2 separate regions of the Homo sapiens genome follow, and region 2 is linked to region 1. Evidence: fine-mapped expression QTL. A gene starts in region 1. The other region holds a variant in brackets. All regions are shown on one strand. Distances are between the middles of the regions. Region 1 holds the start of COLEC10 (collectin subfamily member 10). Region 2 overlaps TNFRSF11B (TNF receptor superfamily member 11b).

What was found. PIP is the estimated chance that this variant, and not a neighbour inherited with it, causes the effect. A credible set is the group of variants that fine-mapping cannot tell apart.
Region 2: its variant is the best candidate, but not a certain one, in a credible set for the expression of COLEC10 in thyroid (GTEx, PIP 0.90).

Annotation. Positions count from the first base shown.
Region 1 is chr8:119,065,843-119,068,878 of GRCh38, reverse strand. It overlaps COLEC10 (collectin subfamily member 10), which reads right to left and starts at 1,632. Exons shown (of 6, transcript NM_006438.5): 1 at 1,450-1,632. The coding sequence starts at 1,597. LOC101927513 (a long non-coding RNA gene) reads left to right here and starts at 97. Exons shown (of 2, transcript NR_134297.1): 1 at 97-1,205. RefSeq lists an enhancer at 458-1,657.
Region 2 is chr8:118,944,266-118,946,765 of GRCh38, reverse strand. All of the region lies in intron 1 of TNFRSF11B (TNF receptor superfamily member 11b), which reads left to right. Among named protein-coding and RNA genes, the nearest start is that of TNFRSF11B, 6.4 kb to the left of the region's middle. The variant A/CAA (reference allele first, on the strand shown) is at 1,490.

The DNA of each region.
Region 1 (3,036 bases):
AGAAGAGGAAATCACACCCAAGAACATAACAGACTTAGTTCTAGAACCCACGGTTCTAGAACACCGCTTCCCAAGTCCCTCTCCCCAGGATCACTCACTTCATTTTGTCACACTCTGGCTTGTAATTATCTCATAATGTCTGCAGATGCTCAGGAGGAAAGTTAATGAGATTTCCACTGTTTGAAGTTTTAACAGGGTTTCTAATGGGAAAATGGGAAGGGAGAAGTTTTCTATTAGGTAAAAAATAGTGCTATTCTCAAATGGATTCTCCCATTTGCAGGGACAAGGAAAACTTTAATTTTCAATGCCCCCATGACACCCCAGGAATAATCTAAAGTTTCCTATACTCTAAGGAAACTTCAGTAACGGTTTTAAGCAAATACTTTATTTCTAATCAAAACTTTCTTTCTGAACATTTGCCCTCGCATTATTCATTTATTCACCCAAGAAATTATTTGGAAGCTCTAAGCTCTCATTGTTCCTCACAGCATTTATTTTATCGTATCAAAGGTTAAAACTTGGATTGCAATCTTAGAGGAAAATTAATTCAGTGATTAAGAAAAATGCACTTTAAGCAATACACATTTAAATAACTGACAGGCATGGGGCAATGTATTTCTGAATTTTGTTTTTTGGAAAAACACTTTTTTCTACTTAAAATTTTAGGCAGCTGCAATTCTTCTACCCTATAGCCTGGAGAAACAGCATGAATTACTAATAAGGGAGCACCAATCTGCAGTGCAGTGACCACTTTCAGAACAAAAGGGTGAAAGCTAAAACCAGAAAAATAGATTTTTTAAAATCTACTGGTTGCTTAAAGCATATTTGGACCTTGGCTGTACTTGAGAACATTTTGCAATATTCTACCATCCTTGAGCAGAAGGCATTTGGCCCCAGAGACTACACTTCCAAATAAAGAAATGTTCATTTATATACTACCTTCAATGCTTGACAAAATGTTTCCATCCTCTACGTTGGAACTCAGGATCCCATTAACTTATGAAATATATATTTAAGATTTAAGTTTTATGTTACTGACCTTTTGCTTAAACAGCTTTACCAGCATCAGTATTAGAAAGGAGGAGAGTACAAACAGTGCAATAATAGAGGTGCTTTTAAGGAAGGAAAGGGCTTCTGGAGACTCATGCCTGGATTGTGCATCTGCCCCGGAGCAGAATGGAACAGGGAATTTCCCCCTGCCCTGGGTAAGTTCCCTCAGATCTCCGTCCTGGGTTTCCCCTTCCCAACATCCTCTTACCTAACATCAAAGGAGAGCTTTAAATAAGTAACAGACCAGATCTGGAAAATCCTGATTTTCCAAAATAGAAGGAAAATGGGAGGAAACTAGGGAGGAGAGAAGAGAAAGTCATTGAAATCTAGGAAGGGGTTCAGAGATGAGGGAAGATATCATATTTATTATACATGAAAATTGTGGTTTTCTTTCCTCACCTTTGGGTCCTGGTGAAATTGTGTGTGTGGCACAGACTTCAGCGGTAGGACGGCTATCAATATCCAGACCCAGACTCTGAATTTGCAAAAGAAATAGTACCAGGAGGATAAATTGGTTTCTTCGAAGCAAGGATGCAAAGCCATTCATTGCTGTGGTTCCTCAGAAAAGGGTCTCCCAGAAATGCCAAATAAACAGCTTTATTTTAAATAAAACCTCCTGCTTTGGGGAAGAAGGGGAAGTATTTGGAACACACATTCCAAAAAGGGCTACAGAGACAGGAAGGAAGCATACCCTAGGTTGTTTATTTTCTCAGTGCTCCAAATGGACCATACATTGTCCAGACTGTTTATTTTCAAGTGACAACAGTTTATTGAAAATTATCTCTGAACTCCAGTGTGCATGTCAGTAGAAACATCCCCAAGAACAAAGAAGATAGAGATGCCTTCTGCTGAGTACTTGAGCTGACAATTTAATAGGCTATATTGCATTTAAACGCTGAGTTTCAGAAAGGTTGTGAACCAGAGAGGTCTTCAGTTAGCAACATGTTATGCAAACACCGTGCATGGCTTTGAGCTTTTCATAAGGTGATATTTATTACCTGCTTGTGCCTGTTGAACACTAATGCTTCCAATGCCCTCCATGACCTTCTTACTCTTGCTACCAAGATTATTCTCTTGTGATTAAATTCAAAAGGAAAGAACAACCAGCTTTTCTGTGAAGCAACTTGGTGATAAGTATTAGGAATATTAAAATGTTTATTACCTTTGGCCTAGTTTATAGCTTTTAGCCTTTCTGGTACACTATCTCAAGGAAATATTCTGAAATGTGGGCAAAGCTTCATTTGAAGGGATGTGGCAGAAAGGCGAAAGGCCTTCAATTGCCTAACAACGTGTTAACAGTGGGCAAATTACGGTAAAATATATGAGAGTGTATGACATGACAATTTTATTAAAATGGTGTTTTCAGCAAGTCTTTTACAAAATAAGGGGGAAAAGCTTGTGGTATTATGTTTCATAAAAAGCTCAACAGATTTAGATGTAGAGTATGTAGATCAGATACAGATATAGATACAGAGATCAGGATCTCTATCTATTCCACAAACCTATAACCTGTACAAATAGTATGGGCATAGTAAGATATTGGAAGATTGGAACCAGAATCACATATATTGGAGAGGCCCCTTACCTTCTCCATTCTTGAACAGCATCTCAACTAAGAGTTAGGTGAAAGGGATTTTGGACCTGCTTTCCTTGAAATTGGAAAAGAAGGACCTTACAGATCCTGATACAGACTGACTGCTGAAAAAATATCCCTAAGAGATGTCGTTACAAGTAACCATCAATCCAAGAAATACAGGTGCATTAGTTTCCTAGGGCTGCCATAACAAAGCACCACAAACTGAGTGGCTTACACCAGCGGCCGGGTGGCTAAAACCAGTGCCAACCCTTTTGGCACCAGGGACCAGTTTGGTGGAAGACAATTTTTCTATGGGGAAGATGGGGAAATACTTTCAGGATGATTCAGGCAGGCACATTACTTTTTCTTTTTCTTTTCTTTTTTCTTTTTTTTTTTTGAGATGGAGTCTC
Region 2 (2,500 bases), 120 kb after region 1:
TGTCTCAACAGCCTAGAGAAGATTTTTGGAGCCATAGAGATGGATGACTTCACAAGCCAAGAGAGAAGAGTGTGAAGCCGCCCCCAGAGCACAATTCTGATATCGATAGTCTGGTAAACAAAATGCAAATATGAACAGCAGTAGCAGCCATGTTTAGAAAAGAAAACAAAAATCAAAATAAAACTTAGCAACCCACAATAGCAGGAACTAGTGAATCGGAAATCCTAGGAACATCCGTAAACTATCTATGCTAGAAGAAAGAGTGAGGTATGGCCAACTTGAAATAGATACAAGGACGGTGTTTTTATGTGACATGTAATTAGTTTTTGGAACTCACTACCACAGAATATTTTGGGGTAACTAGCAGAGAAAGTCTAAAAAAAGAATCCTTTTAGACAGTTGTAAGGGATAAGAATAGTGTTACAACACATTAGCTAAGAAACTGAGTGGTACCCACTCTCTCTCACATTTACCTGGCCTCTCTAAATGAACGTTCTGAGGCTAGAACAGTCTACAGACACACTAAAATGGTTCTTTCCATCTACAAGTTGGCATAATTTCCGAGGTGCTTGAGTAGTTTTTTTCACCCCAATTTCTCAGAAGCACCTGAATCAGCCACACCATAAATGGATAGAGGATGCAAGAGGAAATGAAATGTAATTCCTAAAGCCCTTCCAAAAAAAGTAATGTGCTGATAATGGCTTTGATTTACCTCTTTATTGTTGTGATTTTTAAAAAAATTCACCTCTCTAGATTTATAGTCTTAATACCTATTAAAATATTTAATTTCCTTGAAGCCATCTTCTTTAAAAATAAAATGAATAGCTTTAAGATTTCTACTCCAATTCAGACTGGACCTTTTCTATAATAGCCTCTTCAATAATCACCAATAAAATAGGAAAATAGGTGTCAAGATGAATTTAGATTCAAGACAAGACAGTGACTCATCTAAGCTTTGTGGCTGCCTTTAGTAAATCCAATTTTCTTCTCTGGTCTTTGATCCAGAAACCTCAGTTCTCTTGCCATGTAATACTACTTTCTTGTTCCAAAAAAATGATTTCTTTTATTCTTAGAAATATGAATATCAGCACTCTATTCCTTAAAAAATTCTCCTGACCATCAATTTGCATCAATTTCACCACCACCACCATCACCAAAAAATGTAATTTAACAATTCAGTTGTGGGTCATGGTGACAATACTTTTGCAATGGCAGTGGTGAGAGGCAAGAGTTTCTCATTCTGAGACACATTCTTCTTGTCTTTAGCCAACATGCATAGAAGTTATGAATGTGTGTATTTTTCATATTTCACTTAGTTAAAAGCCAGGTTCCAAAGTTCTCAGTTGTATTTAGTCTCTGAGCTCCAATGGGTGACACCATTTCTATGGGTCTTACTTCCAGCATCTCTAAAATAGAGGTTAGAATAGGTCATATGTGGAAGGTCTGATGCAGTTTAAAGATTTTGCCATCTGAATTAAACACACACACA[A/CAA]TTGTGCATTATTTCCCGCTCAAAACATGCAAATATCAAACAGACTTGTCTATAAAAAACATTATAGGAATGTTTTAAAATATTCTATTTTGTTGCCTTTGTCAAAGTTTATTCTGCCCCATTGGTTCATGTATAAGAAATTCTATTTAAATCAGTGAGACCACAAGATGAAGCAGCTTTTGAAATGTTACCTACCTTTAGATAGTAGGTAGTATGACTTATATATTTTAGAGTCAAAAATTATTCTTTTAAGCCAAAAAAGATTTTCTCATTCTGAGACACATTCTCCTTGTCTTTAGCCAATATGCATAGAAGTTATGAATGTGCATATTTTTCATATCCCATTTAGTTAAAAGCCAGGTTCAAGACATCCCCTCAGGACTTACTGAAGAGATATAATTATGGTCACTTGCAGTCTCCTTAGATGCATTGAGTGGAATTTTCTTTGAATTTGTATTCACAAGGAAGTACTTGACAACTGCACACCATTATTTGGAATACACGTCAAACCTTCAGGCAGAATAAGCATGATAATGGGTAGGTTGGCATGACCATTAACAACTACACTTGAATAATACACCAGGCTGATAGACAGAGACCTCTGCACCCACGCTCTGTTTCCTGTCTCTTCTTTTAATATCCAGTAAAAAATGTAAAAAAAAGAAAAAAAAACTAGATTGTGCTAAAATAAATGCCAATAGAAAGCATGAGCAATGTTTATGAGGATGATGTACTTGTTTGTGCTCTTTGCCAGTTGTTCCCAGTTCTTCTGCCTTCCAGAAGCTTGGTGGGATTGTGTATCCTAGCCTCCTGGTGAGGATGGGGTCGGGGAGAATGTGAATAGTTCTGGCCAGTAACTCATGAGTTAAAATGATGTAAGTCACTTACAAATTAGAGCACTTAATAGTTGATGTATACAGCCCTCCCAAAGTTGTTTGTTTTTTCCCTTTTCCTCCTTGACAGCAAATCAGCAATATTTCAGGTATTGGTTGCTATATCATCCTAGGTCCC